4 linked regions of the Homo sapiens genome follow. The protein of the gene in region 3 purifies or fractionates together with the protein of the main gene of each other region. This does not show direct contact. Each region holds a gene or a part of one and is shown on either strand. Other genes may lie near its edges.

The links.
Region 1: the proteins of SLC9D1 (region 3) and PXMP2 purify together in Homo sapiens (affinity purification with mass spectrometry; 2 studies listed by BioGRID and IntAct, with this or other methods). This does not show direct contact.
Region 2: the proteins of SLC9D1 (region 3) and SQLE purify together in Homo sapiens (affinity purification with mass spectrometry; 2 studies listed by BioGRID and IntAct, with this or other methods). This does not show direct contact.
Region 4: the proteins of SLC9D1 (region 3) and PIGQ purify together in Homo sapiens (affinity purification with mass spectrometry; 2 studies listed by BioGRID and IntAct, with this or other methods). This does not show direct contact.

The regions. Positions count from the first base shown.
Region 1 is NC_000012.12:132,697,582-132,704,604, reverse strand, and holds part of PXMP2 (peroxisomal membrane protein 2), read right to left. Parts: intron 3,356-7,023; coding exon 3,236-3,355; intron 1-3,235. UniProt on the Homo sapiens protein: Seems to be involved in pore-forming activity and may contribute to the unspecific permeability of the peroxisomal membrane.
Region 2 is NC_000008.11:124,994,413-125,001,525, reverse strand, and holds the start of SQLE (squalene monooxygenase), read right to left. Parts: upstream 3,022-7,113; 5' UTR 2,123-3,021; coding exon 1,832-2,122; exon of another isoform or gene 1,572-1,831; coding exon of another isoform or gene 1,455-1,571; intron 1-1,454. UniProt on the Homo sapiens protein: Catalyzes the stereospecific oxidation of squalene to (S)-2,3-epoxysqualene, and is considered to be a rate-limiting enzyme in steroid biosynthesis.
Region 3 is NC_000013.11:113,501,015-113,508,037, forward strand, and holds part of SLC9D1 (transmembrane and coiled-coil domain-containing protein 3 isoform 1 precursor), read left to right. Parts: intron 1-737; coding exon 738-866; intron 867-2,481; coding exon 2,482-2,574; intron 2,575-7,023. UniProt on the Homo sapiens protein: Probable Na(+)/H(+) antiporter.
Region 4 is NC_000016.10:572,965-579,987, reverse strand, and holds part of PIGQ (phosphatidylinositol N-acetylglucosaminyltransferase subunit Q), read right to left. Parts: intron 5,923-7,023; 5' UTR 5,914-5,922; coding exon 5,225-5,913; intron 4,150-5,224; coding exon 4,018-4,149; intron 3,855-4,017; coding exon 3,734-3,854; intron 1,610-3,733; coding exon 1,483-1,609; intron 1,204-1,482; coding exon 1,050-1,203; intron 920-1,049; coding exon 808-919; intron 1-807. UniProt on the Homo sapiens protein: Part of the glycosylphosphatidylinositol-N-acetylglucosaminyltransferase (GPI-GnT) complex that catalyzes the transfer of N-acetylglucosamine from UDP-N-acetylglucosamine to phosphatidylinositol and participates in the first step of GPI biosynthesis.

The sequences.
Region 1 (7,023 bases), on a different chromosome or scaffold from region 3:
AGTCCAACAGGCCACGGTCAGCGGGAGGCCGTGGCCAGTTATCCAGCCTCAGTCACCCAGTTCATTTGTTTACCCGTTTGTTGGTCAGCTGGTCCAACCACCCATCCATTACTGCATTTACTGAGCCTTTGTTCGTACCAAACGCTGTGCTAGGCCCCTAGCAGAGAGGAGTGGAGAAGAAAAACGGTCCCCTAGTTACAGTGTTCACAGGCTACAGCGGCCCAGGAATCCCAAAGCCAAGTCACTCTCCTTTTGCCCCCTTCACCGCACACCTTAGCTCCTGGTTCAGCCTCTCTCACTCCAGGACCAGCCATCATGCAGGTGGCTGCACCCTCCTCAGGGGACACAGCTGACGAACAGCGGAGGGGCCCCAGACCTTCCCTCCTCTAACCCATCACCATCCCACTGCCCTGCTTTGGTGACTCAGCAGCTTCACCCTTCCCCAGAATCCTCTGGCCCAGTGCTGAGTCTCTCCCTGGCACGTGGTGCTATGAAAGTAGCAGCCCATGTGTCTGGTTAATCGCCGCGTCTCCGAGTCTAGCAGCATGGCGCACAGTCACTGCTCAGGAAACGCTTGCTGAATGAATGCTGCTTCCGCATACACCTGCACCCACCTAGGATGGCGACTCTGCCCCCACGCTACTCAGAGGCGCGGCTTCCCAGCTCTCCCCTCTTCCATCCCAGATCCTCCGTGTTCCCGGCCAGTCTGTCTTCTCAGTTGTCTCTGCTTCCTTCTCTAAATTCCCGAGAACCAGTGGCCCATGGCTGTAGCTTCCTTAGCCTACTGTTCTTCAGTCACACTCCCTGGAAAATCCTTTATCCTTCCTGCCTTCTCACTTCCCCAGATGCTGACCACAGCTGGACAAGCCCCAGCCCCCTCTGCCCAGAGGTCTTTGTCTCTGCAGTCAGCATGCTCTCCCATCCTCCACATGGCCAAACTTGCCCCTCCTGTATCCCCTTAAAATGCCCGCCTGACTTCCTCTGCCCTCAGTCCCAGCCCCTGGCCCTCCAGAGAGGCACGTGGGGGCTTGAGGCAGGATGTCCCACTCTCCTGTCCGCTCAGCTGTCACTTTCTCTCTCCTCTCTCATCACAGAGGGCAGGGCCTCTGTCCAAGCACCACTGTGAGTGTGCTGGGGGCTCACATCCACCCTGACTCCTTAGGGGACCCCGCAGAGCTGCTCTTTCTGGACATGCGTGTTTGCCCATCCCACAAGCAGCTTCACGTCTGCACCCACCATGGCCGCATCTCTGAGTGTCAGAACCCCCTCTGCCACCCAGCCTTCTTCCATCACTTCTCACCTTCTCTCAAACTTTTTAAAATTCATTTTTATAAAATAGAGATGGGGTCTCACTATGTTGCCCAGACTGGTCTCAAACTCCTGGCTTTGAGTGATCCTTCTGCCTCAGCCTCTCAAAGTTCTGGGATTACAGGCATGAGCCACCATGCCTGGCCCCCACAGACTTTGAGAGCATGTTCTAGACTTGTGATTTTTAAAATAATTCCCACCCACTCTTCAAGGCAATCTGGCTTCAGCCCCATAGAGCTGAAATTGCTCTGGGAAGGGCCACTGTTAAAGCCAAAGGAAATTTTTTTATTTTGCTTTAACTCCTGGCAACTTTGGCTAAGGGTGAACTGCCTCTTTGTCCTGTCTGTGTGCACCCCTGGTTTCCTGCTGCTTCTTGGTGTGTTTGTGGTGTGTGCAGTGTGCACACACTGGGCCGCCTCCCTCCTCTCCCTCGGGGGTCACCCTGGTCCTTTCCTCCCTCCTGGGCAGGGCTCAGAGCCGGTGCTAATGCAGGAAGGCCCTCTGCAGCTGAGGTCCAGCCACTGCAGGCCTGTTCAGGTCCTCCCTAGCAGCAGCCTGGGCTGGGACGGCACCCACCTTTCCCAGAAGGGCCACCTGCCCTGTGCCTGGACTGTTTGCACCAACAATGCAGGCTCCACACAGCTGCTGTCTTTCTAGGGGTCTGGAGCTTTGGGGCAGCAGGCAGAGATGCCCGCCCAGAGTACCAGTAAAAAACCCTGATGGGCGGCATACCTTCTGGGGGAGGGAAGCACGTGGCCCCTGCAGGCTCTGCCAGGCCTCCTCCTGTAGCATCTGGGGGTATCCTGCCATGCTGCAGGGGGTGCTGCACCCCATCCTCCCAGTGTGGGAGTGGTCCTGGGGACCCTGGCTGTGCATAAAGACAGTTGATCCCAGTGGCAGAGCCTGGAGCTCCAGCCTCCACACCACCAGCCCAGCCCCAATCTGACACCTTTGACTCAGCCCCCACAGCAGCTCCTTCATGCACAGGATAGCGGAAAGGCTCAGCTTACCCAGAAGGCCTTCACTCTGCACCTGGATGGGCCCACCCCTTGCCCAGGTGTGGCTGCCATGGCTGCAGGTGAGGCAGCTCTTCCAGGCCAGCGGCAGGACCCATGGCCGCACAGTGCCTGCCTTCAGGCTCAGCTGTAATTCATGAGCCCAGGGACCACGAATGCTTTGTTTCTTTTTAACATTTTATTTATTTTTTGAGACAGGGTCTTACTCTGTTGCCCAGGCTAGAGTGCAGTGGCACAATCTCAGCTCACTCCAACCTCCGTCTCCCGGATTCAAGTGATTCTTGTGCCTCAGCCACCTGAGTAGCTGGGACTACAGGCACCTGCCACCATGCCTGGCTAATTTTTGTATTTTTAGTAGAGATGGGGTTTCGCTATGTTGGCCAGGCTGGTCTCGAACTCCTGGCTTCAAGTGATTTGCCCACCTCAGCCTTCCATAGTGATGGGATTACAGGTGTGAGCTACTGTGACGGCCTTCTTTTTCTAAGTATAACTAGAGTTTATTTGGGCCAAGTTTGAGGACTGCAACCCAGGAGCATAGATTCAAGTTGCCTGCATGTACATTCCTGGGACTGGGAATGTTTCAAAGGCTAGAAAACTCATAGGCATCCCTGGCATGGGGGCTTTTAATGAGAATTTGCTGAACGAACAGAAGAGGCAAAGACGACCACTCGGGACACCCTTCTCTGTTGCTTCCTGAATCCCGAACTAGCAATGATTCAGGGTCATGGGCAAAATCCAAGGGTAGTTGAGGAGTCTAGACACGGATGAAACTAAGTCTAGCGGAAAACTACCAAAGAAAGAAGAGAAGAGAAAAGAAGAGGGGAGGGAGGGGGGGAGGAAAGAGGAAGGAAGGAAGGAAGGAAAAGGCTGACAAAGTAATGTTAGCAGAGGCTGAGCCCCGTGGCCCTCACCTTCAGAGGGACGTAGTTGATGTTGATGAACTGTAGTGGCGTCCACACCCGCCAGTTCATCCTCAGCGCCGGCCAGAAGCCCCCCCTCATCTTGGCGGCGAAGGCTGAGGCGTCTTTCCCCTGCAAAGGAGGGAAGGCGGGTGGTGAACAGTCTCACTGCCCATCAGAACTGAATTCCGGGCACCCAGACCCTATCGTGATGGTTTTTAAACTGCTATTGGATTTTGTTCTGTGTGTACGCAGACAGCACACATGTGTACTCAGCACTGCGGCTCTAAGGAGCCAACCAGCAAGATGGAAAATGATCAGTGAGATGCCAGACAGCAGCCTGCTCATGCTGGCAGTGATGTCTGTCCTGGCCCAAAACTCCTTGCGGACAACTGGAGGAGGTGACTCCCAAGGCTGGCCCTGGGCACCAGAACTGCTACTCAGAGCTACGCTGTCAATTCCTCCCAAATAACCTCCAAAGTCGATGTCTTTCCAATCAAAACTTGTTAGGAGTTATGAAAAAAAAAAAAAAAGGACTCCAGTAAGTTCATTCTAAATGTCAGCTGGTGGATTCAAGACCTGAACCCAAGACCTGACACCATAAAGATCCTAGGAGCAATTCCTCTGGACGTCCGCCAAGACAAAGAATTTGTGACTAAGTGCTCAAAAGCAAATACAGCAAAACCAAAAACAGACAAACAGGACTTCATTAAACAAAAAAGCTTCTGCACAGCAAAAGAAACAATCAACAGACAGTCTACAGCCTGGGAAAAAATATATGCATATTATGCATCCTACAAAGGACTGTTATCCAGAATCTGTGAGGAACTTACACAACTCAACAAGAAAGAAATGAATAACCTCATTAAAAAAGTGGGCAACGGATACAAACATTTTTCAAAAGAAGAAAAACAAGTGGCCAAGAAACATATGAAAAAATGTTCAACATCACTAATCATCAGAGAAATGCAAATTAAAACCACAAGGAGATACCACCTCACGCGAGTCAGAATGGCTATTATTAAAAAGTCAAGTGGCCAGGCGCGGTGGCTCATGACCGTAATTTAAGCACTTTGGGAGGCTGAGGTGGGCGGATCACGAGGTCAGCAGTTTGAGACCAGCCTGACCAACATGGGAAAACCCTGTCTCTACCAAAAAAAAAAAATACAAAAATTAGTTGGGCATGGTGGCGTGTGCCTGTAATCCCAGCTACTCAGGAGGCTGAGGCAGGAGAATCACTTGAACCCGGGAGGCGGAGGTTGCGGTGAGCCGAGATCGTGCCACTGCACTCCAGCCTGGCTGACACAGTGAAACTCTGCCTCAAAAAAAAAAAAAAAAAGGTCAAAAAACAATAGATGCTGGCAAGAATGTGGAGAAAAGTGAACACTTACACACTGCTGGTGGGAATGCAAATTAGTACAGCCCTTCTGGAAAACAGTATGGAAATTTCTCAAAGACCTGAAAATAGAACCACCATTCGATCCAGCAATCCCACTACTGGGCCTCTACCCAAAGGAAAAGGAATCATATCAAACAATCCCTGCCCTCGTGTGTTTATCACAGCGCTATCCACAACAGCAAACACGTGGAATCAACCTAAACGTCCCCCAACAGAGGACTGGATAAAGAAAAAGTGCCATAAATACACCACGGAACACTACTCTGCTATAAAAAAAAGAATGAACTCGGCCGCGCACGGTGGCTCACGCCTGTAATCTCAGCACTTTGGGAGGCTGAGGCAGGAAAATCGTTGAACCTGGGGGGCGGAGGTTGCAGTGAGATGAGATTGCGCCACTACACTCCAGCCTGGATGAAAGAGCGAGACTCTGTGTCAAAAAAAAAAAAAAAAAAAAAAGCATGTCTTTTGCAGTGACGTCGATTGAACCGGGGGCCATTATCCCAAGTGAAACAACTCACCAATGGAAAGTCAAACACTGCATGTTCTCACTTTTTTTTTCCAAGACAGGGTCTCGCCATCTCACTCTGTTGCCCATGCTGGCTGGAGTGCAGTGGCGTGATGTCGGCTCACTTGGCCTCAACCTCCTGACATCAAGCCTCCGTCTCAGCCTCCTGAGTAGCTGGGACTACAGCCATGTGCCACCACAACCCTTTGATTTTTAATTTTTTTGTAGAGAAGGGGTCTCACTCTGTTGCCCAGGCTGGTCTCGACATCCTGGGTTCAAGTGACCTTCCTGCCTCAGCCGATGTTCTCACTCATAAGTGGTGGCTAAACAGTGGGTATACATGGACCAACAGAGGGAAATAACAGACACCAGAGACTTGAAAAGGTGGCGGGGAGAAGAGGGTTGAAAATCACCACTGACTACTTGGGTGATGGGAAGTAAAAGCTCAGACTTCACCACAGCACAGTCACATAAGAAATCTGCACTCGTACCCTCTAAATATATACAAACTAAAAAAAATTTTTAAAGAAATGCTTAAATATTTTCTTGTTTAAAGTAAGGGGGAGAAGCTGGGTACAGTGGCTCATGCCTGTAATGCCAAGGTGGGCATATCACTTGAGGCCAGGAGTTCAAGACCAGCCTGGCCAACACAGAGGAACCCCATTGCTACTAAAAATACAAAAATTAGCCAGGCGTGGTGGTGGGCGCCTGTTGTCCCAGCTACTCTGGAGGCTGAGACATGAAAATCACTTGAACCCGAGAGGCGGAGGTTGCAGTGAGCCGATATTGTGCCACCACACTCCAGCCTGGGCGAGAGTGAGACTCCATCTCAAAAAAAAGAAAATAATCCAGCAAAAGAACAAAGAGTGCAGATAATTGCCTGTACAGATGGAAATGAGAATATTTCAAAATACTGGGGATTGCCCAATAAATGGTAATGAGAAAATTTGCTATGTAAGTGGAAAAATCAACACAGAAGTCTATCTCCTACTGTACACAAGTAAAACCATAAGAATACCGGAGGAAAGCAGAGGAGAATATTTCTATTATCTTCCTGTAAGGAAAGGCATGAAGGAGAATAATGTCATGTTTGAATACATGAACCTTTATAACTTCTGTATGGAGAAGTGAATGGTTAAAACAAATTTACTTTCAGGACAGAAGGTGACGCCAGGTGCAGTGGCTCACACCTGTAATCCTAGCACTTTGAGAGACCGAGGCGGGTGGATCACGAGGTCAGGAGTTCAATACCAACCTGGCCAAGATGGTGAAACCCCGTCTCTACTAAAAACACAAAACAATTAGCCGGGCATGGTGGCGGGCACCTGCAATCCCAGCTATTTGGGAGGCTGAGGCAGAGAATTGCTTGAACCCAAGAGGCGAAGGTTGCAGTGAGCTGAGATCACGCACTACACTCCAGCCTGGGCAACAGTGTGAGACTCCGTCTCAAAAAAAAAAAAAAAAAGGTGACACGTCTCAGACACACAGCACAACCTGGCTGGTGCTCCTAGAGATGGTGAGGATTTGAAGGTGCTCGTGAACGGGGGAGGTGGGACAGTCAGAACAGACACACCTGCTGAGTGCAGGTGAACACGCCTCCCATGCGTTGGATTCTGACTGGGATTATGCCGGTAGGTTAACCTCCAGGCCCGGAACTCTTCTGTGTTATCAGTAGGGGTCTCAAACTTCTTGTGCCACAGATCTCTTTGGCAGTTTAGTGAAGCCTGTGGACCCCCTTCTCAGAATGTTTTGTAATCTATAAAATAAAATACGGCTGGGCGCAGTGGCTCACGCTTGTAATCCCAGCACTTTGGGAGGCCAAGGCAGGCGGATCACGAGGTCAGGAGTTCAAGACAAGCCTGGCCAACATGGTGAAACCCCATCTCTACTAAAAAT
Region 2 (7,113 bases), on a different chromosome or scaffold from region 3:
AAATGTGCTTCTTCATAAGTTTTTCCTGTTTTATATACACACACACACACACACACACACACACACACACACACACCCTGAAAGGAGAGCTCTGGAGGAAAACAGGCCTTGCAGAGCCTGATCAGTAGAGTAAGCACTAATGGGAACTTAGTAGTCAATAGATCACAATCTAACAACTCCCTGGTTCACAAAAAAATAAAGAGAAAGCCTGGGGCGTTCACAAAATGGAACCAATATTGATTGCTGGTAACCCAATTTTCCTACTCCAAAATTTCTCTACACAGCATGAAAACAGGAACAGCATTCCAGCCACCTGAACTAGAGCTCAGTGACCTTAAGGGAAATTATTTCAGACCACAATACAAAAAAGTTCAAATTAAACATTAAGGATTCTCTCTCCCTCCTTTCCCATTCCTCAAACCCATGCACCATGTCACTGAACTCAGCGCTACTCATAAAGCTCACCCTAAGAGATGTATATTACCCCTAGGCTAATATTAACAGCTACTATTATCAGGCGGTTATAGACTAGGTATTAACTACCAGCAAGGGTGGTGCCATTCCCGTCTAATGGAAGAGGTAACAGATTCTCACAGAAATTAAGCAATTTGCCAAAGATCTCACATCCAGAAATGGTGGCGCAAAAATTTAAAAAGCAAGTGGGCGTTTACTGCTATAGTCTCTTGCCTGATAGCCCTGCTTCCATTCTTGTACGCCTACAACCCATTCTCCATACAGCAACTGCAATGTTCTTTTTAAAAGGTAAAAGTCAGGCCAGGCGCCGTGGCTCACGTCTGTAATCTCAGCACTTTGGGAGGCTGAGGCAGGCGGATCACTTAAGGTCAGGAGTTCGAGACCAGCCTGGCCAACATGGTGAAACCCTGTCTCCACAAAAATACAAAAAAAAAAAATTAGCCAGGAGTGGTGGCGTGCACCTGTAATCCCAGCTCCTTGGGAAGCTGAGTGAGGCACGAGAATCGCTTGAACCAGGGAGGCGGAGGTTGCAGTGAGCCGAGATCACGCCACTGCATTCCAGCCCGGGCGACAGAGCGAGACTTTGTCTCAAAAAACAAAAATTTTTTAAAAAGTAAACACCGAATAAAGTTACTCCCATACTTAAAATCCTCCAGTGTTCTTGGGAGAACTCTTGGGAAAAAGCCCGAACACTCATTGCCAACATGCCCTAAATGATCTGGCCTAAACTCTTCCCCCTCATCTTCTCCCAGTGGCCGCCTCTGCTCCCTTTGCAGGAATCCCAACTACACCCTTATTTGAAGACCTGGCCTTTATGTTAGGACATTACTACAAGCATTTACTCAATGCTCCAATATTCGGGGGAGGAGAACTTTGAGCCCAATGCCTCAAAATGTTGAGCATTCTCCTTCTGCCTGCTTTTCAAACTGTTCTGTCACTTTCCCCAGTCAGCTGTCACTTCTTACAAGCAGTGGACTTACCCGCAGCACGTTTCTTTCTTCCTCAGGCACAAATCCAATCCTTACCCAAGAACTTTTTAAAAACTTTTTCATCATGGAAAGTGGTTGTTCTTCTCCTTCAAAATGAAATTCTAACATTTCGTTCCATCTTTCATAATCAAATATCCAACCTCCATCTGAGGCTCAACCAATGCTAAATGAAACAAATGTCTTCACTCATTCTTAAGAAGGTCAAAGATGTAACCAAGGCACAGCAGAGTTTAAAATAAAAAATACATGAGAATGTATACAAGCATCTAACCTGCCGCCTTTTGCAATTCAAATAAAACTTATATTTGAGTGAACCCAATCCTACTCCTAAATAAGACATTCATCTGCCCGCTTTGAAATCAACCTACCCTCCTGGCCTCGAGCTGCTCCTTATTTTCTGATTCAGGGGGGGATTTGGCCCAGAAGAAGCCAATGAAAGGCAGGCCTGAGAGAATATCCGAGAAGAGGGCGAACTGGGAGCCGCTCTGCTGGCGCCCGAGGAGACCCCCGTTTCGGTGGCGACAGCGGTAGGAGAGCACCAGGCCCAGCGAGAGGAACACCAGCACGCACAACAGGACCTCCCTGTTGGCCAAAGTGATGAAGTCCCCGAACTTCTTATAAAAATAGGTGAAAGTGGCAATGCCCAGAAAAGTCCACATGGTTCCAAGGCTTCTTTGGTGGCACCGGTCAAGGCGGAGATTATCTGCTCGAGTGGGTTTAAGGTTCTCCCCAAAATGAGGTACCAAGAGGAGCACGGAGAGCCGGCCAGACTCCAGTAAACAGTGTCCCAGGACGAGAAGTCCGATCAGACCAGTTTTTAAAAATCATATAAAGTTAGTGTAAAAGTATGTGAAGCCAAGTTGTATAGGGCGTAGAAAGCAGTATTTAAAAATCGCCTGCTGGAACAGCTCCCGAGCAGACTCGCTCCTCCTCGCCCAGGAAATCCAGATATTCCCTTTTTTTCTTTTTTGATGGTGTTCCCTGAGCGGTTGCTGCGGGTGATGGATACTCTTCTGATACTGGCTCTTCGTGCTATAATTTCTTTTCTCACCAAGAGCAGGTGCCCTTTCAGAAGGGAATGGGAGTGGAGGGAGGGTCACAGAAACACCTCGGCACTGGGGGAAACGTGGCCTAGCCTCTGGCGACGGCGAGCAGCGGCCGGAAGGCACGGGGGCTGCGGGCCGGCGCGGGTTCAGAGGCTTCTTTTTCCGCGGACGGAGACACTGTACAGCCCAACCTCGGGAAAACGCCAACGCCGACGCCTTCTCCAACAAAAGATGGCCTCGGACTCAAGAGTGCGGCTCCAGGGCAATGCAGCCCCAACCTAAAGATTTAGAGGCCTCCCGTTTCGCTGGCCCCCAGAGCCGCCCACCGCGACTGCACTTCCCCACCGATAAAAGGTGGTTTCCAGGGTACCTCCCTCAGATGGCGGCGGCGGCTCCCGACGGCTTCCTCACCAGCATCCCTCGCGGGCGGCGGCTCTCGCCAGCGCGGCGCGGCCCCAGTAACCAGAGTAACCGTCGCACGCCCCCACTCGCCGCCAGGCTCCACGCGTCTCAGCCAGCTGGGCGGGCTCGGCCCAGACGAGGGACCGGGGGCGGGGCTCAGGCGCGAGTCCGCCCATACCGCGCGCCCCGCGTGCTGCCCCGCCCCCTACCCCTGCTCCTGCCGCCGCCGGCCAATGAGGGCGCGCACCGCGCGGTAGGCCGAGATGGCGCTATGCCGCGTTTGGCCAATCGGAGGCGGCGCAACCTGCGCGGCGACGCCCCGAAAGGCGCTAGGGCGATGTTGCGTGGTGCGGGTTGGGGCGTGGGGATGGGCGCGGGCCGGCTCCGGCGTGGGTGGGGCCAGGGGTCGCCTAGGAGGCGCTCTGGGGCCGGGATCGGCGTCGGGGTCGGGGTTGGGGTTGGTTCACCGCAGCAGCCCCAGCTCCTGCGCCCTCCCTGGACTGAGGTGTGCTCGCTTTGAGGAGAAGCCTGGAGTGATCCGCTGCCTCGGGTCGGAACGTTTCCATTCATTCCGCTAGCATTTATTGAGCGCTTATGATATGTCAGTCCCCGGAGTCCGAAAGAGGAATCAGACACAGCTTCCCTGCCCTGTGTATGTGGAGAGGGCGGAAGGGAGGGCCATGAGTGCGTGGAGAGCCTGACATTCCAGCTGAAGCTGGAAGAATGAGTAGGCTTTTGCCTTAAGAAGAAAAGGAGAGGACGCTCCAGGTGCTCAGGCTAGAGATACACGGATGCGCCCAGCCCGTTCTCTCAAGACCAGAAACGTTGGGGGTGGGGGCTCGGAGGCAAAGAAGTCAAATAGTCGTGTCATAGGTGTCCTGAGAAGGGGGTGGTTAGAGAGGGAGCCATGGAAACCCAAGAGGTGGTCCTTCCCTTGGCCTGGAGAAGTCTGGTGAGGCGCCCAGGGGGAGGTTACACGGTGTCCAGGACAAGCAGTCCGAGGGAGCAAAAGTGTGCAAAAGTCTCGGAGTGAGACAGCCCTTATTCTACTACGATGAAACTTACCTAAAATTTATTGAGGCTTAAGACCTCAGTGTCTTTGCTCATCCTGTTTCTTAACTCTGGACTTCCTTCTTTAACCCCTATGATAATAGGTGCAAATCCCTTCTGCCTTTTGGAGCGTGGCTGCATTGTCACCTCTTCCACCAAATCGCCATTGACCTTCACCAAGTCACATAACTTTATTCATACTTTTTAATCTCTAGATTCCCTAAAGATCTGTGTCTGATAAGATCACCCACAGCACCTAGCACAATGCTCTGCCCTTAATTTATCCTCCATAACATGTATTTAATGAATGATGAACGACACTGGCGCATAAAAGCAAGACTAGGCAACTAGAGTTAGGAGACCCAGATTCTGGCTACCGCTAACCAGACTGTGACCTTTTACAGATGTTACAAGTCACTCTGCCTCTGTGGGGAGAAGGCAACTTCTTCATGAACTCGAACATCCTTTGCAATTCTGTATCAGATACTTGGCAGGGTTTAAAAAAACATGGCACCTCTTATAACTTTTCACCCCCAATATTATGTTTTATCTGCTAATAAAATAATTATTTGGTAAAACACCCGCACAGGCGTTCACTTGACCCTCAAAACAACTTTGATTTTTAAAATGAGGAAAATGAAAATTAAAGAGGTTAAATGGCTTGACTAAATCACAGCTGTGATTAAATCGTAATGATGAAACCAAAAGTCAAAGTCCTGGTCTCCAAATCTTGTGGTTCCCCAGTATGCATAATTATCAATAACTGCCTTGCTTTCCAATACTTTTATTCTTTCTTCTACAATATTCCTCACTGTTACCAGTAAGTTTGGCTGTCTGAACTGACATCAAATTTAAAAGGACTGCAGAAAAGAGAATCAGTTCAATGTATGGGAAATCATTTCCTGAAGAGAATTCTTCAATAAACTGCTTATTGGTATCTGTGAGTTCTGTTTTGTTAAAATAATAGAGGAGCAGCTGACTCTTTTATTATTTTTAAATTTTTGTGACAGAGTCTCGCTCTGTGGCCCAGGCTGGAGTGCAGTGGCGCAATCTCAGCTCACTGCAACCTCTGCCTCCTAGCTTCAAGCGATTCTCAAGCCTCAGCCTCCCGGGTAGCTGGGACTAGAGGCACGTGCCACCATGCCGGCTAATTTTTGTATTTTTAGTAGAGACAGTGTTTCACCATGTTGGCGAGGCTGGTCTCAAACTCCTGACCTCAAGTGATCCTCCCGCCTGAGCCTTCCAAAGTGCTAGGATTACAGGCATGAACCACCAAGCCCGGCCAACTGACTCTTACAGATGGGAATACAGTTATCACCAGGATGGCTGTTACCTGCTAACTCTGTACTCAAGATTATCATAAAAGGAATTTTTCTTATTAAGTAGATAATTTTTTAATCTCTGGAAAGCGACTTTCTTCATATGTTTTTATCTTCACAAAGTCATTCTTACAATGTCAGGTCTGAATCCTTTAGGCAGTTCAAGATCCACTTCTGAATTTGGGGCAAAAAGAGCACTTGTAATACCTACCGCAGAGCACACTCTGAATGCCTATATCTTCTGAACTGAATTAAATGTTATATAAGCATTGCTTAAGTATTTTTGAATCTTGCCATGGTTCATTTATTCAAAAACAAATCTGTCATTGAGACCTGAAGGGAAAGCAATGAAATGTGAGACAAAATCAGCTGCTTACTGGCAGAAAGCCATAATGCTATCAAGTAGGTACATGAGAAATACTTTCGTACAAGAGCTCACACATATAGTACGGGTAGCATTCTAAATACTTTTCATATATTAGCTCGTTTTGGCTTCCTGACAACACTTTTAGGGAGATACTACTTTTTTTTTTTTTTTTTTTTTTTGGAGATGGAGTCTCGCTCTTTCACCCAGGCTGGAATGCCGTGGCCTGATCTCGGCTCACTGCAACCTCCGCCTCCCGGGGATCAAGCGATTCTCCTGCCTCAGCCTCCCGAGTAGCTGGGACTACAGGCGCAGGCTGCTACGCCCGGCTAATTTTTGTATTTTAGTAGAGATGGGGTTTCACTGTGTTGGCCAGGCTGGTCTCCAACTCCTGAGCTGAGGCAATCCGCCCGCCTCGGCCTCCCCAAGTGCCAGGATTACAGGCGTGAGCCACCACACCCAGCTAAGATACTATTTTTTTAGCCCCATTTTACAGACAAGAAAACTCATGCACAGGGAAGTGATCACAGCTAGTGACTAGCAGAGTCTGAATCCAAGCCCAGAAAATGTATGTGAGGAATTTAGGAATGTGTGACTTGATTTTTCTCCCCACACAAAGACCTAGTTATCTTGAAACAAACAAGCACATCTGATCTCTTTTTTGCTTAAGCTTTTGAGTTTTCACTGTTAGCCTAGTTTGGCACACCAGGCTAGATTTGTGTTTTAAGTGCCATTCTCAATGCAAGAAAAAGTCCCGCCCAGCTTTCCTCAACTACCCATGCTTTGAGACCTCAGATTAATCATCTTTTTTTTCCTCAAGTTTTCATAATTCCACCTCTGTTGTAGCAGTCACTCACCAATTTGTACTATAATTATCTACTCACAATGCCTTTTCCAAGTTGTCGAAAAAGAGCTCAAGAGAGGGTTCTGAGATCTCATGCAAAAAGGAATTCAAGGCTAGTAGCAGAGCGCAGTGAGAAGAGAGTTTATTAAAAGCTACTCCATTACAAAGTAGGGCATCCCCAGAGAGTAAGAGGAGGCACGTCTTGTCTGTAAGTTTTCCTTATACAGAGGTCTTATCTATGTAAAAAGCTAAGCTGTGTCTACATGTCGGTGAGCAGACAGCATTACAAATTATTCTATTGATTTAAAGATAACTATCCTTGACATTCTAGTGTGTGAATACATCAAAGCTTAACTGTAATTATCTTGAAAACATAGATTGTTATGGGTATTGGGACATGTGGGCTTTCTGCTTTTGTAGGAGTGTGTCCTTGTAGTAGGTATCTTTAGGCTGTTTCCTCAACTATAAACGTGTTATGATTATGGGTTGTGACCGAAAAGGAATGTGCCTTGTTAGTCTCAAGATGGAGTTGATTTTTAAAGTGGTGCCACTCTGGCTCTCCTAGGCTCCTGCTTCCCTAACACAAGGGATTCAACTCCTCAAGACAAGGACCATGTCTTATTCA
Region 3 (7,023 bases):
TCACTGACCTTCAGGGCTGCAGGTGCAGCAGTGCCAGCGCCCACTAAAGATTCCTGCCTGCACCCGTCATGGCAAAGCCACGTGAATTACAGTTTGGACACCAGCACTGAGAGTTTCCCAGATTAGAAAACTCAGTGGAATTCTAGGACTCAGAATTCTTAGAACACTCTTATGGGGCTTAAGCAAAACAAAAACTTTGCTGTATAGTCAGCCCTCTGTGTCCACGTGCTCTGCATCCTCAGATTCAACCAACTGTGGATGAAAATATTCAGAAAAAAGACCCAAGAATAACAATACAATAAAAATACAAATAAAATATGACATCAATTTCCATTGTGTAGGTATCATAAGTAATCTAGAGGTGCTTTAAAGTATATAGGAAGATGTGCTAGGTTATATGCACATACCATCCCGTTTTGTATCAGAGACTTGAGCATCCGAGGATTCTGGTCTGGGGGGCAGGGGAGGATCATGGAACCACTGCCCCAAAGATACCGAGGGGTGACTGTAATCTTTAGGCCATGAAAAACTAACTCCATCTATTCCCAGAATACACTCTTCATATTTTCAGCTTCTCTGGGATCCTCAGCATGAGGAAAATCGGTGGTTTTGTCTTCACCCTTCATTCCCATCAGGTGAAATCGGGGAACTACGTCCTGTTCTGTGCCTCAGCCAGCCAGCCCCCTTCTTACCACTGTTATCTTATACTTCTGTTTCTTATTTATTTTATTCTTCAGGACATTGTTACCATAGGAATGCTGTCCTTGCCTTGTGGCTGGCTATGTACAGCCATAGGATTGCCTACAATGTTTGGTTATATTATTTGTGGTGTACTTCTGGGACCTTCAGGACTAAATAGTATTAAGGTAAGAACAAAATTGGATTGTTTTGGTATCTGTTTAACAGAATATAAAAAGAGAATTCATGAAGACTAAAAAGTATTGAATGTGATTAATGCAGATACCAGCTTCGTATAAACCATTTCAAAGATGTCCTTTCAGGTGTCACGGGAAGTCTCTGAACCCTCAGGAAGTCGCTGTGCCTGTTAGTGAAGGGGCGGTGTTACTGGAGACAACGCCCCTGCTCGTTTCCATTAGTTTTAAGGACTCCATTTCCAGTAACGTGCTGGACCAGGTTATTCAGACCACCTTTCACGTGCTGAATGTAACCAAAGTGTTGCATTAACCGTTTTTGTTGTTGTTGTTGTTGTTGTTTTTGAGACAGAGTCTCGCACTGTCACCCGGGCTGGAGTGCAATGGTGCAATCTTGGCTCACTGCAACCTCCGCCTCCCGGGTTCACATGATTCTCCTGCTTCAGCCTCTTGAGTAGCTGGGATTACAGGTGCACACCACCACACCTGGCTAATTTTTTGTATTTTTAGTAGAGACGGGGTTTCACTATGTTAGTCAGACTGGTCTTGAACTCCTGACCTCATAATCCGCCCGCCTCGGCCTCCAAAAGTGCTGAGATTACAGGCATGAGCCACCCTGCCTGGCCCATTAACTGTTTTTAAGCATCCCATTCACAACACATGGAAAAGCTGATTAGCCCCAGTCGAGGCAGTGGGCAGTGGGGCTGTTTGCTGGGCCCCGTCACACTGATGGCACTTCTGACAGGGAGGAAAGGTTCCCAAGCTTCCAGCTGTCTCCCCACAACACTCACGGTGCGAGCAGCGTGGAGAACGGGTGCCAGAGTGGGTGCCATGAGTCCCACTGGAGGGAGGCGTGCCAGGGGGTGGGACGGGGAGGAGTGCAGCCTGCTCCCTCCAAGCCTCTTTCCCTCTGCTGCTGGTTGAGCCTGGGACTAGGCCCAGGAGCCCCAGGGCTTTCTCCAGATCGCAGGGCGGCAGGAGGGGTCTGAGGAGCTCGAGCCCCAGCTGGTGAAGAGGAGCGCGCCCAGCACCCTGGGCCTGGGGAGCGGCTGGCCGGCAGAGGAGCCGCAAGCCCACGTGTGGGGGCTCCCAGGACAGGGCTCGCCTTGGCAGAATGGCCTCTGGGAAGAACGGCTGTTTCAATGTAGTTTTTGGAGTAGGTCTTTTTCACGTGATTCAAGTATAAAACACCAGAGGTGAAAAATCACTTCCTGCCCTTTGCAAATAAAAGCAAATACAAATTTCCTTCCTTCTTTTTCTTAATAGCAAAGGTGCTCATAAACCAACAAATAAGGTGAAGTGGCTGGGTAACACATACAACTGGATGCTGTAAAAATTATAATTCTTAATAAATCAGCTAAACCATGGAAAATAATGTAATTATAAATAGACCAAGATAAAAATCAAAGCACATACTAGCCAAAAGTGAGAAGTGGTTAATCGAAGTACACTGTGTGATTGTGTGTGTGTGTGTGTGTGTGTGTGTGTGTGTGTGTGTATGTGTGTTTTGGATACTTCCACCGGGCATACTAGGGCATGATTGTTGAGTTAAGTATACTTAATATGTTAAACATGTACAATTATATGGTTTTTCTTTTGTGTTTTTCAGTCTATTGTGCAAGTGGAGACATTAGGAGAATTTGGGGTGTTTTTTACTCTTTTTCTTGTTGGCTTAGAATTTTCTCCAGAAAAGCTAAGAAAGGTAAGGACCTCATCAACCTGTTACTGCAGCTAAGGAGCTTCACATCATGTGGTTTTGGTTCATACACTTTTAACACTTGTTGATGAATTCACTATCAAATGTTTTTAGAATAGAATATGATATTTCGGTTTGATGTTATTTTTGGGACAAATTCAGAAAGATAAAAAATATCAGGTTTGAAAGCGTAGAAATTCAGTGAAGAATTGGAATTTGCCTTCACATGGCTAACTTCAGGAAGGGTCTGGAAAGTAATGTGTGTGAACTTTAATAGATGGCTCCCTCTAAGGTGCGAAACTGTTAGAGGGTCAGATGTCATAGAGCTTGCATATTCAGTGTGTTACCCTAGAAAAAACTTTGTCAATTGGAAGTGAGTTAATTAAAAGACACTTTGTTTTTCCAGACACCGCACAAAAGAGGAAAGTAGCTGATTAAAAGCCAGGGTGGGGAGAGGTAAAATGAACACTGTTCATAACAAAAACACCCTGTGAATTAAGATCAGATACCACTTTGCCTGCAGTGCTAGCTGGAAAACTAGCATCGACTTAGCAAAAGTTTTTAAGTGACTGTCAGATGTAACAGGCATTCTTGAACCAGATTCGTGAGAATCACAACTGTACACCCTTTCTGTATTTTTGGGGTTTTTTTTCCACGAAAGACTTGGTCATTTTAAACAAAGTGACTTAATTTACAGTGTCTGGTTTGCCTAATCATTCAGCTCTCTCATGTAGTATTCCTTCTTTTTTTAATTTAAAATTTTTTTATTTCAATAGGTTGTTGGGAACAGGTGGTGTTTGGTTACATGCGTAGGTTCTTTAGTGGTGATCTGTGAGATTTTGGTGCACCTGTCACCAGAGCAGTGTACACTGCTCCCGATGTGTAGTCTTTTATCCCTCGCCACCCACCACCCTTTGCCCCAAGTCCGCAGAGTCCAGTGTGTCATTCTTACACATTTGTGTCCTCATAGCTTAGCTCCCGCTTAGGAGTGAGATCATACGACGTTTGATTTTCCATTCCTGAGTTACTGCACTTAGAATAATGGTCTCCAGTTCCATCCAGGTTGCTACAAATACCCCTTTTTTGTTCCTTTTTATGGCTGAGTAGTATTCCATGGTATATAAATACCACATTTTCTATTGATGGGCATTTGGGCTGGTTCCATATTTTTGCAACTGCAAATCGTGCTGCTCTAGACATGTGCATGCAAGTCTCTTTTTCGTATAATGACTTATTTTCCCCTGGCAGTGGGGTTGCTGGATCAAATGGTAGAGCTACTTTTAGTTCTCTGAGCAACCTCCACACTGTTTTCCTTAGTGGTTGTGCTAGTTTACGCTCCCACCAGCAGTGCAGAAGTGTTCCCTGTTCCCCACATCCCTGCCAACATCTATTCTTTTCATTTTTTGGTTACGGCCATTCTTGGAGGAGTAAGGTATTGCATTGTGGTTTTGATTTGCATTTTCCTGATCATTAGTGATGTTCAGCATTTTTTTATGTCTGTTGGCCATTTGTATATCTTCTTTAGAGAATTGTCTATTTATATCCTTAGCCCACTTTTGGATGGGGTTGTTTGTTTTTTTCTTGCTGACTTTTTTGAGTTCTTTGTAGATTCTGGATATTAGTCCTTTGTCGGATGTATAGATTGTGGAGATTTTCTCCAGCTCTTTGGATTTGTACACTCTTTTTGGAGAGCTGTCTAGCAATTTGACCTAAAAGCCTTAAAATGTACATATGCCTTGACCTGGTAGTTCTTCTAGGTCTCTCTCCAAAGGAAAGAATCAAACATAAGTTTTTAAAAAATTTACCCACAAAAGGTTTCACCTCCTCATTGTAAATTTTTAAGAAACAGTGGAACCAGTCCTGAGCATCTAACGGTCAGTTCAGCTGCGGCGTGACTACCATGGAGTGTTAGGTAGCCACTGCAAAGTAACAAGAGCATCAGCAACAGAGCAAAATATCGGTTGGAAAGCTAAATGTGGGGAAAAAAGGAGCATGTAACATGACCGCGGCAATGTAAAAGAAGCACCAATACATGGGGGAAAAATGGGAAAGAAGCGTTCCGGGTAGCCATGATGACTTCTGGTTTCTTCTCCATATTTTCCAAATTTTCTATAATAAGCAGTCAATACTTTGTCATTAGGAGGAAGAATAAACTTTTCTTTTAAAGGCTTGTGTTTACTTTCAGAAGTCAACTCTGATCTCACTGGCATGTTTTTCTTTATACTCTCTTCCCATTTGCTTCCTCAGTTCATCCTCTTACCTAGAACTTTTTGTTTTCTTTATCTTTCTGTTTTTCCACTAAAAGCTCCGTTTTTCCATCTTCCCATTACTCTCCCTTTCCTGTGTACACTCCTGAAGACAGGCATCCTCATAAGGTGTTCTGAATTAACTTTAGGGTGTTCTCCAGGTACTTTGCATCTTTTTATATTTCTTGTAAATTGTTAATTTCTAAGCTCCATGATTAAAGAGAATTCACCACTCTCCTGGGTCCTAATGAAAAGCTGTGTCATCCTTGCCGTTAATCCTGTGGAGGAGACTGTTGTGGGTGGGGAGGGTAAGGGAGCGTGGGCCGCGTGGCTGCCTGGCCTGTGGAGGAAGGAGCCTGTTACGGGTGGGGAGGGTAAGGGGGCGTGGGCCACGTGGCTGCCTGGCCTGTGGAGGAAGGAGCCTGTTATGGGTGGGGAGGGTAAGGGGGAGTGGGCCGCGTGCTGCCTGGCCTGTGGAGGAAGAGGCTGTTATGGGTGGGGAGGGTAAGGGGGTGTCAGCCAGTGGCTGCCTGGCCTGTGGAGGAAGAAGCTGTTATGGGTGGGGAGGGTAAGGGGGAGTGGGCCGCGTGGCTGCCTGGCCTGTGGAGGAGCCTGTTATAGGGGGTTTGGGGATGTGGCTGTCCAGTGCCCTGTCTCACCAGTGTCCCACGAGACTCCGTAAAAACACAAGGCCTCCATTCCATGGTGCAGCATGGGCGTGTGTGTGTGAGTGTGTGTGTGTGTGTGTGTGTAATTTAGAGAGGTTTGCAGCAAAGGGCAATTTAGGGCCAACCCGTAGGGGAGGTGGGAGGGATGAAGTTCTGGCTGTGCAGCAGAGCGTCAACAAGGCACTGATCTGCCTGGACCTGTGTTCCTCTCCTGTACAGTGAGGAATCTAGAAGGCTCCAGTGTCTTCTGGCTCTGCATTTTCATAGTTTGTATTTTTCTCCACTATAGTATTCACAGTTAAATAAAAAATAATGTTGTATAACGTAAGGTGGAGGTAATTGTGAGCAGCGTGAGCATGTGCTTCATCAGGCCTGCTGTCGTCTAATGGTGCTTCCGAGGGTTTGCACCCGGTTCTGAAGTGCCTGCTTGGTGGTGTAGACTCGGGGGCTTGGCAAGAGGCTGGCGTTCTCTGTTAGTAAGTTGTGCTCAGCTGCCCTGCGTGGTGACAGAGTCAGATGCGTGGAAGGACACTGGATTGGGACTCAGGAGACGTCTGTGAAACTCCTTGCTGACATCTGATTGAGTGGGGCTGGGCAGGGTTCCTTCTGTGTCTGGGATGTGCGGGTGTCTTGGCGCTGACGAGGGTCTCCCGGTCCCAACTCCTCTCACCCGTTGCCGAGCCTGTGCTGCTGTCCCCGGAGGGAGCCGTCGGAGTCTGGCCCCACCCTGGTTCATGGAGACGGCATCCCGCTGTTTTTCTAAGTCTGTGGACTCGGATTGCAGATCTGTATCCACCCAGAAAACGACATTATTAAGCAATGTGTTTATTTTCCCCTTTTTATTACTCAGGTATAAATATCTGGCCAAGCTTTAGAATAACCTGAGATACCCGGAGTGACTTTTCTGAACTGATGAGCCTCCTGCCACGTGGGTTAGCTTGCACACCACACTTATGGGTGGGAAAATAATTTCCTTGGGTTTTTGAAATGTTAATACTTGCCAGAAGGCCCCTCTTAGGACTTCTAAAGATATGATTAGAAACTACTTGGAACACTGAAGCCCCGAAACTGCGCCGTGCATAGTGCTGAGGAAAGCTGCCCACTCTGTTCTCGCCCTTGTAGCTGCTCGCTCCTCTAGCCTGACTTCAACTGTTCCTTAAACTTGATCTCTTAAGAGTCTGTCAGTTTCTGCCTCTCTCCAGATTGTTTCTCAAGTCATTGTGGTTGGGAGTTTCGTTTGCTTCTGTCTTGTATCTTCTCTGTTCTAACTACAAATACCTGTTGAGCACCTGTGGTGTTCCAGGCCCTTCAGGGGCTGCTGGGTGAGGCAGGTATAACGTACGTGTGTGCCTACCCTGCGGCTTGTATTTTGGGATTTCAGGAGAATGTGTCTTGGCGCCGGGGGTGCCAAGGGGCCCTCCCGTCAGCGCCTCCTGACCTTCAGCCCACAGGCAGCCATCTGGGGGGCTTGGTAACCCACAGATTCTGACCTGGGCGCACCTGCAGATGGGGTTTCTGATGCATGCACGGGTCCCGTGTTG
Region 4 (7,023 bases), on a different chromosome or scaffold from region 3:
AGGGAGACAGGTGGGGGCCAGACCACCCAAGACGGTGCGTGGCCACACAGTCACCAAGAACATGCTCTGCATGGCAGCATCCAGCGGCTGCGGCAAGTGTGAGCAGCAGACGGGCCCGGGCAACTCTAGTCTCCGAGCCCGGGCACCTCTAGTCTCCGGGCCCGGGGCACCTCAAGTCTCCGGGCCCGGGGCACCTCTAGTCTCCGGGCCCGGGGCACCTCTAGTCTCCGGGCCCGGGGCACCTCAAGTCTCCGGGCCCGGGGCACCTCTAGTCTCCGGGCCCGGGGCACCTCAAGTCTCCGGGCCCGGGGCACCTCTAGTCTCCGGGCCCGGGGCACCTCTAGTCTCCGGGCCCGGGGCACCTCTAGTCTCCGGGCCCGGGGCACCTCTAGTCTCCGGGCCCGGGGCACCTCAAGTCTCCGGGCCCGGGGCACCTCTAGTCTCCGGGCCCGGGGCACCTCTAGTCTCCGGGCCCGGGGCACCTCTAGTCTCCGGGCCCGGGGCACCTCTAGTCTCCGGGCCCGGGGCATCTCTAGTCTCTGGGCCCGGGGCACCTCTAGGGCCTGTGCCTGCACCACCTTCGGGGCTGTGTGTCTGTCTCTTCTCTGTGGCCCAGGGAAGCTCTGCGCTGCTTCAGAGCCCCACGTGCAGCCCACACCGCAGACTTATCTATTCCCAGGGCCTGTGCGCGGCCTCAGCTGCAGGACGGGAGCAGGCTGCCCCCTTGTGGTGCCCAAGCACCGCGCTGGCCCAGCGGGCACAGGCCGGAGGCAGTCAGCCCCTCCAGCCACGAACCCTGCCCCATACCTGGTCCAGGTCATAGGAACAGGAGTCCACGCGCTGGCGCAGAACGTTCCACTTCTTCCCCCGGAACAGACGCCACAGTGAGGACAGGCCATGGATCTTCAGGCAGTACAGCCTACAGGACGCAGTGCTGTCGGGCCCGGCCCCGCCCCGCCCCGCCCCGCCCCCGCCCCACTCGAACGCCCGCCCAGCCGGAGCCTCTGCACCTCCCAGGGGGCGGTGGGGAGGGGGAAGCCCACGCCCACCTGGCTCCATAGACGTAAAAGCAGTAGATGTGGAAGGTGAGGAGGGCGATAATGTCCGAGAGGAGGGACAGGGCCACCGTCAGGCCCAGGCAGGCCGAGAGGCCCACGTGCCAAAGGATGTGCTCCACGAAGGGGGACATGAGGTGGATGTAGCCTGGCAGGGTGGGGTAGGCCCTCAGGAGGCGCTCAGACCCCAGCCCTCGGCCCAGCACAACCCTCACACACACAGGACATGAGGTGCGTGTAGCCTGGCAGGGTGGGGTCAGCCCTCGGGAGGTGCCCAGGCCCCAGCCCTCAGCTGAGCACAGCAGGCCTCACACACACAGGACGCTGGGGAGCAGAGTTGGGGGCACAGGGGGCGGGGTCTGGCTGGGTCCCTACCCTCTTCAGCAAGCTCTGGGGTCCCTGGGGCCCCCGCCTGCCCTGCACTCACTGATCCACAGGTGGATGTGGTAGAGGAAGAAGCGGCCCAGCACCTGGTCCAGTGCACGGTTCATCTTGAGCCCGGCGGGAGCACCCATCAGCCACTGCAGCAGATGCTGGAGCTCCTCGGCCACGTGCTGCAGGGACACAGGGGCCACGCTGGGGCGGGGGCAGCCAGGCTCAGCACCTGCATCTCCCCAGGCTCTTTCGTGATGGGCTCCCACCTTGGCCAGCCTTCCCTCCTCCAGGGTCTACCGCGTCCTAGCGTGGACAGCACACGGGCTCCCCTTCACAGATGGCTCCGGGATTGGGGTCTGAGGAGGCTGGTCTGGAGGCCTCTCTCTGCAGGCCTGGGTGACATGGCCGGGCCCACAGGGCATCCGCGTGGCCCCCTGCCTGCACCCACCTCTACCATCTTCCTCCCCTCTCACTACCTCGGCCACAGGACCCACTGGAGCCCTCGGCCCCAAACACGTGGACGCACTGAGGCCTGGCAGACCCTGATTCGGCTCCAGCCCTGCAGGGAAGCCCACAGCTGACACAGTCCCCTCCAGAGGCCCCACCCCATCGCAGAGGCTGGGGGCTGCCCGGGATGACCACAGGTGAGCGAGACAGTGCCAAGCCCATCAGGGCCACAGCGACCAGGCAGGAGGACAGGTCCCCAGAGGGAGGATGGCGTCAAGTTGAGGGCACAGGCACCCCCAAGAGCAAACAGGGAAGCAGGGTCTTGGCCGCCCAGGAAGAAACTCAGCATCCAGAGGCTGTGCCCCAGCGGGCAGACCCCAAGGGAGCCTCAGCCTCCCCACTAAGGAGACAGTGAGTGACACCTTGGCCCCCACTTGCCCATTGCGCAGGCCCCTTCCAAGCCTGGGCCAAGGCCTCAGCCACAGCAGGACTGGCAAGAAGGAGAAAAGAACACTTTTTTTTTTTTTTTTTTCTGAGACGGAGTCTTGTTTTGTCGCCCAGGCTGGAGTGCAGTGGTGAGATCTCGGCTCACTGCAAGCTCTGCCTCCCGGGTTCACGCCATTCTCTTGCCTCAGCCTCCCAATTAGCTGGGACTACAGGTGCCCACCACCATACCTGGCTAATTTTTTGTATTTTTAGTAGAGACGGGATTTCACTGTGTTAGCCAGGATGGTCTCGATCTCCTGACCTCATGATCCGCCCGCCTTGGCCTCCCAAAGTGCTGGGATTACAGGCATGAGCCACCACCCCCGGCTGAGAAAAGAACATTCTTTATAAATAGAGCTTATTTAATATTTAAAGGATAAGAGCTTGGCAGCAGGAAGAGACTTTCATTTTTAAATTAAATATTTATATTTCTGAGCACTTTTGCAAAAGGGAGGTCTAGGACAAAGTAGGCCGGTGGCAGGTGCGGACGACCACAGGCAAAGCTGCCGAGCCCCTTCCCCAGCCCCGCCCCTCCTTCCTTCTGGGCTGGAGCTCCCTGCACCCCCACAGCCACACAGACGTGCCTGATGCTGCCCCCAGAGGCCTGGCCTGGCCACAAGCAGGCCCAGTGCACACCTGCAGCCCACACAAGACCCACCCAGTCAGGCCTCAAGGAGGCCTCCACAGAGGCCCGAGGGTGGGCCAAAGAGTCAGGTACCACCCCCAGCAGGAAGACAAGCTCCTAATGGAAGAGACGGGGCTTTGGTGCTGAGGGAGGAAGACAGAGAAGCTGAAGGCCCAGAGGCAGCATGGAAATGCACTAGATCTGCAGAGGAGGGGGCTGCACCCGGCTGGAAACGGGGCACAGACCATGCAGGGAAGGTGGGAGATGGGAGACAAGCTGTGCCTCTGGCTCTCAGCACAGGAGTTACAGAATCAGCACAGGGGCAGGGCAGGAAGTCCCAGCTGGGCTGCACATGGGCCTCCCTGGACAGGAAAGGTTTCATGACCCTGGCTCTGCAGAGGGCCCCAGAGAGCCAGGAGGGCAACGCTGATCTCAGGGACCACAAGGGAGATACCAGGACGCTGGGCCCACAGGGAGAGGCGGGCTCCCCAGAGCCTCAGCCCGGCTGGCTCCTGCACACAGCCCCTTCAGAAGGAAAGGGGGGTGTACCTGCGAGGCCTGCCCTGCCCAGGCCCCAGCGCCCCTGGAGTTCCTGCTTCTGGTTCAGGGGAGGGCCGTGTCTCCAGAGCATGGAGAAGGTAGAACTGGCTTTGTGGGGCGGTGGCTCTGGCCCGGGAAGGCTCTGCTGCCCAGGAGGGGTCCCCACGCCCACCCGGGACACCGGGCTCCACCCCAGTCCACTCACGTCAGCCACAGGAACGAGGGCGTCGGCCAGATGCCCGATGCGGCTTCTCCCGTGGAGCCAGGACAGCAGCATGAGGCCCAGGGCCACGTCCAGCAGCACAGAGGCCACCGTGTTGGCCTTCCTGGAAGGGAGGTCCGGCCCGGCCGGCATGAGGGTGGCCAGCACAGCCTGGGGCCGCAGGAGGAGGCCTGCCTGGCCGGAGGGGTCAGCGTGGTGCAGAGGGGGATGGAGAAGGGGCCAGAGGGCACGCACCCAGCCCTGCAGAGACCAGGGCAGGCCCACACCTCATCAGCTGGGCAGGGTTCTCCGCCTTCCGTGTACTGAAGATTAGCGTGAGGTGCTCCAGCCGGTGCCGGAGCTGTTCGCACGTGGAGAGTTTGCTCCCGAGGAAGGACAGGGGCCAGAGCTTGAACACTCTGCGTGGGAGTGGAGAGGAGTGATGTGTCCCTCTCCAGATCCTCCTCCCACCGTCCCCCACTGTGCAGGGGACCACAAACACCCAGGCCACACTCCTGAGCTCAGCAGGACAGGGGGCAGGTGGGAGGGGCCCTCGGTGGCCCAGGTGGTGGTAGGCAGCGCTCAACGCGCCCACCTCACAGTGCACGTGACTAACACGGAGCCTGGCCTCCTCGCAGGTGCTGACCCCGGGCCACCTGGTCACCACATGCTCCCAGAGCCGGTGCCAAGAAGCGCCTGCCAGCCAGCAGCAACTCCCACGGGCCCAGGGCCTCGCCCCGCCGACAGGGCCCAGAAAGCTGCCCGGGGTCTCCTGGGCTGGCCTAGCTTCTCACCCCAGGCTTCCAGAGTATGCACCCCCGGGTCTAAGGCAGGGGGCAACTGCAGGTGACCCCTAGCTGCTCCCCATGGGGCACCTCCGCCAGGCAGATGAGGTCCCCTGTGGAAGGGGGCCCTCTGTTCTCAGCCACAGCTCGGGGCTACCCCCGTGCCCCTCAGGGCCCTTGGGCTTCAACTGACCCTTGGCCAGCAGCACCTGTGATTGTGGAGAGAAGCAGGGCCTGTAGACCACTCCCCCAGGCACACGGGGCCAGCAAGTGGATGACACCCCCACAGCCCATGAGCGCTGCAGTGTCCAGAGGCCTGCTGGGGGCACAGGCAGGGCTACAGGGAGGCCAGCGGGCCTGTGTGCCCTCAGGAGCACCCCCAGGCAGCAGTAGTCATGTCTGTGCTCACCTTCTGATTTCTCTTTCAGGGACCTAAGCCACTGAGGTTCACCCTCTACACCTTCTGGGAGGGCCCCTGGCAATCCCTGAGGCTGCCCAGAGACCTGGCTCTACCCCAGGGGTGAGGGACACCCTCTGAGAGGCGAGGGTTGGGAGAGCAGGATGGGGCCAAAGCCCGGGCTGCAGGAGTGGGAGGGGGCCCGGGCCCAGGAAGAGCGCATCTGGGCCTCTGTGCCCACTGCAGACAAAGGGATGGGCCAGCACTCATGGGACCCCACTCTTTGCCACCTGCCTGTCCCGGGACACCTACCGGCAGGCACTGACAGCTGAGACCAGCGACAGCAGGCTGGCCAACAGCAGGCAAATGGGTCCCGAGGCTCGCCTGGCCAGCTCCGCGAGGATGCTGGCCTCCACGCCCTCCGACTGCCAGTGGCTCAGCCGCACGGGGCCCTCATCAAAGCGGTCACTGCGGAAGAGCACCTCACTGCGTGCTACCGTGTCGAAGACGGCAGCCAGGCCCCCCGTGCTGGCAGTGGTGGCTCCAGCCTGGCGGTCGGGCAGGACGGTGGGCAGGTGTAGCTGTGACAGCAACACCTGGCGCTGGTCATAGAAGATGAGCATGACCTGGTCCTCACCAGGGGCACCGGGGGCAGTGGGCGCTTGCCGGTGGGTGGCCTCGCAGCTCCAGAACGTGCCGCCTCTCTCCCGGCACAGCCGCAGCCAGGGCTCATGGGGGAAGACAGCACCCAGGCTCTCCAGGAAGCGGCCCAGGCTCTCCTCGGGCTCCTGCCGGCAGTGGCACCAGGTGCCCAGCACGGCCACGCCCACCTGGCTGGCCTGCCGCACCTGGGCCAGGAGCTGCTTGACCTGGATGGGGATGAAGGGAAAGTGCAGGACCGCCAGGACCACGGCGCTGCTCTGCTCCGGCACCCACCGTCCCACCAGCAGCCCGCTGTCCGTCGAGACGCAGCACGTGGGGAAGAAGGCCTTGAGCACCATGCCGGGAGGCTGGAAGAGAAGAGGAGAGGCTCGGCTCAGAGCTGCTGCTGCCCCCCCACCGTGGGCTGCGGGATGTTGCACAGACGGCCTGACAGGTGCAGCCACAGGGCCCCAGGTCGGGGCACCTCAGCTTCAAGTTCGGTGGTGGACGCCGTAGGGCTCCTTGGCTGCCGCCTCGCGTGGGCCATGCTTCTCCAAGGGGCAGCCAGAGTGCTGGCCCCAAGTCCACCCCAGGCCCAGCTCAGCCCCACCCGCACGAGGCAGGACGCACATGCAGCCACCAGGCCTGCCCTCCCATTTCCAGGCCGGCCCAGGGCACGGCCTCCTCGGCACCACCTGACGCGGCTGTGGGGCCGAACCGAACTCCAGGCTTCTTAGTTTTAAGAAACCTGATTAGAGAGGTGTGCTTAAAGGTGTAGCACGAGGAGAACTGTACAATCTCATTAGCAAGGTCACGCCAATTGAAACCTTGACAAACCATGATTCACGTATTAAGCAAGAATAAAGATGAAAATGTAAAATGATGTGCTGCTGGGCTGTGGAAACTACCTCGTGCGCACGGCGGGCAGCCCCCCAGAAGGTCCCTGCCTCCCACAAGCCCCTCCCTGGGGGCAGGAAGGACCTGCCTCGTTGCTCAGGGCACACAGGGCTTCGGCCTCCACTCTGACCCCCGCCCACGGTGGCACCCGGCAGTGCCTGGCCCTCCCTGACATCCCCACAGCCACCCCAGGGCAGGGCTCCCTCAGGGAGCATTTTCTCTCCAGGATATATTTCTCCAACGACATGGGTGCCTAGAAACGGGGAGAGAGAGGCTTACAGGTCCCGGAGGTGTGGAGAAACTGCATCCTGCACTCTCAGGCTGAGGGACACCAGCCTTCCAAGGTGGCTGTTGAGTAGGAAGCCACCTGAGCTACCGCGGTTCCCAGGCCCTGGGCCTCTCCTCCCCCTTTCTCACAGGCCCCTGCGGAGCCATGCAGCCAGCTGGGGCTCCTTCTCCACTGATGCCTTCCCTGGCGGGGCCCCACAGGGCAGGAGGACTCCCTAGCGGTGGGGGCACTACTGGCCGGCTGGCTGGGCCGCTCGCCTTCCTCAGACACAGAAAGCCCCATC